Homo sapiens: one gene and its partner. The protein of the gene in region 1 interacts with the protein of each later gene in a pairwise test. Each region holds a gene or a part of one and is shown in the gene's direction. Other genes may lie near its edges.

Evidence for each region.
Region 2: the proteins of KIF23 (region 1) and RBM34 interact in a two-hybrid assay, tested with the Homo sapiens proteins (one large-scale study listed by BioGRID).

Annotation. Positions count from the first base shown.
Region 1 is NC_000015.10:69,438,162-69,441,982, forward strand, and holds part of KIF23 (kinesin-like protein KIF23), read left to right. Parts: intron 1-86; coding exon 87-244; intron 245-1,742; coding exon 1,743-1,916; intron 1,917-2,146; coding exon 2,147-2,326; intron 2,327-2,606; coding exon 2,607-2,918; intron 2,919-3,821.
Region 2 is NC_000001.11:235,144,175-235,147,995, reverse strand, and holds part of RBM34 (RNA-binding protein 34), read left to right. Parts: intron 1-3,821.

The DNA of each region.
Region 1 (3,821 bases):
TTTTATCTAGTGTCTGCTAGCAAAAGTTGATATCATTGTTTGTTTTAGAACTGGTGTAAAACTTGACCTGTATGTTTTTGTTTCAGCTAATGCTTTTAAAGCTTTGTTACAAGAATTTGACAATGCTGTTTTAAGTAAAGAAAACCACATGCAAGGGAAACTAAATGAAAAGGAGAAGATGATCTCAGGACAGAAATTGGAAATAGAACGACTGGAAAAGAAAAACAAAACTTTAGAATATAAGGTTTGTTTTGACATTATTATGATAGATGTATGTGCTGGTGTTTTAGCACTGTTCTCTGAGGGAGATATTGTGCTCCAACGGCCTGTAAATGCTGCTTATTAAGAGTTCTCGGTTGAGTGCGGTGGCTCATGCAGGTAATTCCAACACTTTGGGAGGCTGAGGTGGCCAGATCATCTGAGGTCAGGAGTTCAAGAACGAGCCTGGCCAACATGGCAAAAGCCCATCTCTACTAAAAAAGTACAAAAGTTAGCTGGGCGTGGTGGCGAGTGCCTGTAATCCCAGCTACTCAGGAGGCTGAGGCAGGAGAATCGCTTGAACTGGGGAGGTGGAGGTTGCAGTGAGCCGAGATTGAGCCACTGCACTCCAGCCTGGGCGACAAGAGCAAGACTCTGTCTCAAAAAAAAAAAGAGTTCTCAGGCTGAGTGCGGGGGCTCATGCCTGTAGTCTCAGCACATTGGGAGGCCAAGGCAGGGAGATCACTTGAGCCCAGGAGTTCCAGACCAGACCGGGCAACGTGGCGAAACCCCATATCTACAAAAAAAATTAGCCAGGCATGGTGGTACATGTCTGTAGTCCCAGCTACTCGGAAGGCTGAGATGGGAGAACAGCTTGAGCCTGGGAGGTTGAGGCTGCAGTGAGCTGGGATTGCACGACTGCACTCCAGCCTAGGTGACAGAGCGAGAGCCTGTCTCAAAAAAAAAAAAAAAGTTCTCAATTGGTTGTTTACTAATCCTCATCCCATGCTAAGGAGGAAATGTGAGTGAAATGAAGAATCATATGTTCTTTAATTTTATGAGAGTTTTAACAGTTGAAAAGGATGTTCTCTGACCCAAACAAGGGAGCTTTCTAGAGCTTAGCTTTGGTTGTAGCTTGCTTTTGAATTTATTAGAAATATTTCCTTAGTATGCTTTTTTTTTTTAATGAGATAAATGATTAAATGAAATGGTATAAAAGTGCCAGCATCGGGCCTTGGACGTAACAGATACTCAGTAAAGCTTAATTGGATCTGTATTTGGTTTACAAATCGATTGTAAAAGTATAAACTCAGGATTAATCTCTTACAATGGGGTAGAAGGAAATACCGTTTTGTTGGGAAGCATTGCAGCACTGTGTAATGTATGTCTGTTCTCTCATTTACAGAGGGTCATTTAGAGGTTTGGTGGGGGTACACATTCATAAGAGAAGTTAGTCTCAACCAATATAGTTTTTTTAAATTCTGAAAATAGCCTAAAAACTAAATTTTAGCCCTTAATTTTAGGAGAAAGTAATTTTCACATGAAGTTAGTTGTAAATGTCTTTGGGTGAGGAGCTTGTTTAACATGTTTTCATTTCTGAGAATGGGGGTGGGAATTCAGATGAAATGTTAGAGAAAAAAGTGCTTTCTCCATGATGTTTCTTTCCACAAATATGCTTGCATAAGCAAATTAAGGAAGACTATTTTATAGCGACATGAAATGTTTATATACCAAATATTGAACATAGTGGTCTACCTTCCTAGATTGAGATTTTAGAGAAAACAACTACTATCTATGAGGAAGATAAACGCAATTTGCAACAGGAACTTGAAACTCAGAACCAGAAACTTCAGCGACAGTTTTCTGACAAACGCAGATTAGAAGCCAGGTTGCAAGGCATGGTGACAGAAACGACAATGAAGTGGGAGAAAGAATGTGTGAGTATCGTTTGGGTAGTGCTTGTCTCAGAGTCGGATGATTTATTTTACATTGTAGTTAGGTTCGATATTTTGAATTATTGTATTTGCGGTAGGGTTTTGGTGGTGGTTGTTAACTCTCAGGAAGAATTGGAGAACTGTCATTTTTAGGAAATAAAGAGATTGGGTAATCTGGTGTACTCGTTTGCTGTGATGGAATGATAATATACATTGCCACTGATAATCTGTAGGAGCGTAGAGTGGCAGCCAAACAGCTGGAGATGCAGAATAAACTCTGGGTTAAAGATGAAAAGCTGAAACAACTGAAGGCTATTGTTACCGAACCTAAAACTGAGAAGCCAGAGAGACCCTCTCGGGAGCGAGATCGAGAAAAAGTTACTCAAAGATCTGTTTCTCCATCACCTGTGCCTGTAAGTTATTTGTAATTGTGTAGTAACTTTGTACTAGAGAAATTTTGTTCAGATTAGATGACTATTTCTATGAGGATTTTTACATTTTATAATACTTACATTTCTGAAATTTCTCTAAAAATATTTTAAAATTTAGAATAAACACAAATTTAGCACAAAAAAATAGAACAAATAATTATTTGTAATGTTAAGTCTTCATGTGCTAACATTATAGAAAAGTAATGAATTGTTTCTCTCAGTTTTTCAGTCTTGCTCATTAATTTTTCTCCAATTTTTCTAGCTTTCTAGTAACTATATTGCTCAGATTTCCAACGGCCAGCAACTCATGAGCCAGCCACAGCTACATAGGCGCTCTAACTCTTGCAGCAGCATTTCTGTAGCTTCCTGTATTTCGGAATGGGAGCAGAAAATTCCTACGTACAACACACCTCTCAAAGTCACATCTATTGCAAGGCGTAGGCAGCAGGAGCCAGGACAAAGCAAAACTTGTATCGTGTCAGACAGAAGGCGAGGGATGTACTGGACTGAAGGCAGGGAGGTGGTTCCTACATTCAGAAATGAGATAGAAATAGAAGAGGATCATTGCGGCAGGGTTAGTGCCAGTATTATTTTAACGCATTGTAGCAATAGATTTTATCTTCTTTGTTTTTTGTAACTTGTGTCTGAAAGTTCATTGGAAAAATGGTTGGGCTATAGTATAAAGAAGGTCTAATTTCTCAGTTAATTTGAAAGATTGACTTACGGAAATTGAGGCCTGGCTCCTCATCTGAAAAAGCCTAAACACATCTGGCAGCGGAAGTGTGTTCAGTGAACACAGGTCAGTTTGGTGCATCCCAGAGTAGTCTGAGCTTTTCAGCTGCATACGCTAATAAGCTTTGCACAGAATTGGTGAATGTGTCTTAAAGCATACTTTCCATATTTTTCTTTTGGTTCCCCTTCCCCAAATTAGATTTTTTATACCTCCTTTCATGCCCTAGTTTTAAAAATTGTTTTCCCAAATTTTTATTTTGAAAAATTTCAGACCCAAAGCAAAGTAGAAAGAATAGTATGGTAATGTCTTTCCCTCCTTGCCTAAGTTTACCAATTGTTACTTGATATAGATATGTAAACCTTTTTCCCCTAAGCCTTGTGAAAGGAAATCACAGACTTAGAGACACTTAATCTCTAAGAATAAGGACATTGTACTACCTAGCCACAATCTTTATCACATCCAAGAAAATCAACATTAATTAATTATCCTCTATTGAGACATTGTGCAGTTGTCCCAAAATTGGATTGGCTTTTCTTTTTTTTTTTTTAAAGACAGAGTCTCACTCTGTCACCCAGGATGGAGTGCAGTGGCATGATTATGGCTCACTGCAGCCTCAGTCTTCCTGAGCTGAAGTGATCCTCTCACCTCAGCCTCCCAAGTAGCTGAGATTACGGGCAGGCCACCATGCTAATTTTTTATTTTCAGTAGAGACAAGGTCTCACCATGTTGCCCAGGCTGGTATTG
Region 2 (3,821 bases), on another chromosome or scaffold:
GTTTTGGACCACACTGGTGGTGGCTTGTTACCAGTGCTCAGGGGATTTTTTTTGTTTCCCACTCAGTGTCAAGAATGAAACCTACAAGTCTCCTTGTTCGCCCTTCCATATGGAAGGCTTATTTTTCATTTACCTTCAGCTTTATGCCGGTTTCCTATTAGTCTCATATCTTGGGTGTTTTTCTCTCTTAATGGTATATGAAATGATGAAGTTTATAAGCAGATATTTCTTTATATTAGATAAAATATAATAATGTACTTTAGAAACATTTCTGGGAATCCTGTTCTATCAAGCTTTTGTATGGCAACAGTCCCTTTGGACATCTTGGTGACTTCATTTCAATATTGAGTCTTCATTTGGAGTTATTTGGCCGACCAGGTCTTCGCCGGTTTTTCCTCATAACCATCACAGTGCCAGGTGTATAGTTAAGAGTTGATAAATATATAGATTCCCACAGTGTTTGCTGAGGTAACCAAAGATGCAGATCCTCCTAGATACCAGGCATTGTTCAGTGCTGTGGTGACTAGAAACCTTAGTAAGATACAACCCTTCTTTTTGAGTCATACTTTTATTTCTGTATGAAGTTGAAACCCAGGAGCCTAAATTTGAACAGAAACAGAGGTTCTGACAGGTGTATGTACAAGTACTACTGAGGAGTTTAGTGGGATATGTTAGAAAATTGGAATTTTCACACCATACCGTCAGCTTCTCCTCCAGCCCCATCTCATTGTTTTTTTGTTTCTTTGTTTTGTTTTGTGTTTTTAACATACAAGCTCTTGCTCTGTCACCCAGGCTGGAGTGCAGTGGCAAGATCTTGGCTCACTGTAGCCTTAAACTTTTGGGCTCAAGTGATGCTTCCATCTCAGTGTCCCCAGTAGCTGGGACTACAGGTGTGCACACCACCCTGGCTAATTTATTTTATTTTATTGTAGACACAGAGTCTCATTATGTTTTTCAGGCTGGTCTTGAACCCCGGGCTTCAAGCAATCCTTCTGCCTCAGCCTTCTAAAGCAGTGGGATTATGAGCATGAGCCACTGCCTTTTTGTTGTTGTTTTTAATTTAAAATTTAATGATGGCTGGCTGTGGTGGCTCACACCTGTAATCCCAGCACTTTGGGAGGCCGAGGTAGGTGGATCACTTCAGGCCAGGAGTTTGAGACCAGCCTGGCCAACATGGCAAAACACTGTCCCTACTAAAAATAGAAAAATTAGCAGGGTGTGGTGGCACATGCCTGTAGTCCCAGCTACTTGGGAGGCTGAGGCAAGAGAATCGCTTGATCCCAGGAGATGAAGGTTGCAGTGAGCCCAGATCACGCCATTGCACTCCAGCCTTGGTGACAGAGCTAGACTCTGTCTCAAAATAAATAAATAAATAAAATTTAATTATACACCTTTTCTCTAGTCAGCCAATTCCCTACCCTAGGCAAGTGTTTTTAGTTTCTTATGTAAGCTTCTAGAGACATCTTAGCATTTAAAAACTGATACGCATAGATGTTCTTCTTCCCACATAAAACAGTTTAACTCACTGGTATTTAATATATGCACTACTCCACACCTTCCCTTTTTCTGCTTAGTACAACTTGGAGATCTGTTTATATTGGTGTGAAAGTGATTATTTTTATAGCATTTTTTAAAAATGCCCTTTTTCTTAGAGTATTCTCTAGGTGTGCCTTAATTTATTTTATCAAATCTCCCACTGATGGACATAAAGTTTTTTCCCAGTCTCATGACCATTACAAATAATGCTGAAGGCCGGGTGCAGTGGCTCACGCCTGTAATCTCAGCACCATTAGAGGCCAAGGTGGGCAGATCGCTTGAGCCCAGGACCTCCCTGGGCAAAATGGCAAAACCCCATCTCTACAAAAAATTAGCTGGGCATGATGCTGTGCACTGTAGTCCCAGCTGCTTGGGAATCAGACGAAGGAGCACCTGAGCTCAGGAAGTGGAGCTATGATTGCACCCCTGGCACTCCAGCCCGGGTGATAGAGTGAGACCCTGTCTTCCAAAAAAAAAAAAAAAAAAAAAAAAACCTGCTGTAATATTTTAGCTGGTCATGGAGGCACGTGTCTGTAGTCCCAGCTACTTGGGAAGCTGACGTGAGATGATCACTTGAGCCCAGGAGCTTGAGGCTTCAGTGAACTGTGATCACACCACTGCACTGTAGCCTGAGCGACAAGCAAGACCCGCTCTCTCAAAACAAAACAAATAATGTTGGAGTAAATGAGTGACCTTGTACTTAGGTAATTTTGTACATAAGCTAAACTTATCTGTAGGATAAACTTCTAGCAGTGGCATTGCTCAGTCAGAAGGGTATTTGCATTCACAATTTTGACTGCTGTCTCGTAGAGATTGCAACCTATTTATGTTCCCACATCTTTACCAACAGTAAAGTCTTTTACTTTACAAAAACAGTATGTTGGCCAGGGAAGATGGCTCATGCCTGCAATCCCAGCACTTTGGGATGCTGAGGTGGGTGGATTGCATGAGCCTAGGAGTTCGAGACCAGCCTGGGCAGCGTGGCGAGACCTCATCTCTACAAAGAAACAAAAAAATTAGCTGGGCAAGGTGGTGCACGCCTGTAGTCCAGCTACTCTGGGGGCTGAGGTGGGAGGATCACTTGAGCCCGGAGAATGGAGGCTGCAGTGAACCATGATTGCACCACTACGCTCCAGCCTGGATGACAGTGAGACCCTATCTCAAAAAAAAAAAAAAAAGTATGTTTTTGAGCTTTGTGGTTGTTGGAAACCTGAGTGTGGTATTTCTAATTTGAATTTCTCTTATGAGTGAGCATCTTGTCATGTAATTTAAGAGTCATTTGTGCTTTCTTTTATTTGAATTATTAGTCTTATTGATCTGTGGGATGTTCATGAAATCAGTCTTTTGTGACATGAATTATGAATATTTTTCTCTATTTGTCATTTGCTATTTGTTTATTTATTTAATTTATTTTTTGAGACGGAGTTTTGCTCTTGTTGCCCAGGCTGGAGTGCAATGGCGTGATCTCAGCTCACCGTAATCTCCGCCTCCCTGGTTCAAGTGATTCTCCTGCCTCAGCCTACTGAGTAGCTGGGATTACAGGCATGTGCGCTACACCTGGCTAATTTTGTATTTTTAGTAGAGACGGGGTTTCCCCATGTTGGTCAGGCTGGTCTCAAACTCATGACCTCAGGTGATCTGCCCCACCCTCGGCCTCCCAAAGTGCTGGGATTACAGGCATGAGCCACCGCGCTGGGCCTTATTTTATTTTTAAGAGATAGAGTGTTGCTTTGTTCTCCAGCAGAAGTGCAGTGACTCAGTCATAGTCCACTATAGCCTGGAATTCCTAGGCTCAAGTAATCATTCTGCCTCAGCCTCCCAAGTAGCTGGAACTACAGGTGCACACCACCACACCCTAGCTTGTTGGCTTTTTGACTTGGCTTATGGGAAATTTTGCCATGTAAAACTTTTTTCCTTTTTCTTATAGCCAAAATGTTTAAAACCTTTTTTTTTTTTTTTTAGTTTATTAAGGCTACTTCCAGTAAACTGCACATATTTGACATGTACAATTTTATAATTTTAACATATGTAGGCAATCTTGAAACCACTGCCATAGTCCAGATACCAAACACTTTATCATCTCGAGTTTCTTCTAACCCTCTGCAATATGTCCCTCCACCTCTGTCCTCAGGCAGCCATTCATTTGCTTTCTGTCTCTATGTGTTAGTTTGCTTTTTCCAGAATTTTATATAAGTAGAGTCATCATACAGGATATACTCTTGTCTAATTTGCTCAGCATAATGATTTTGAGGTTTGTTTTTTTGTGGGGGAGGGTTGGTGGAGGG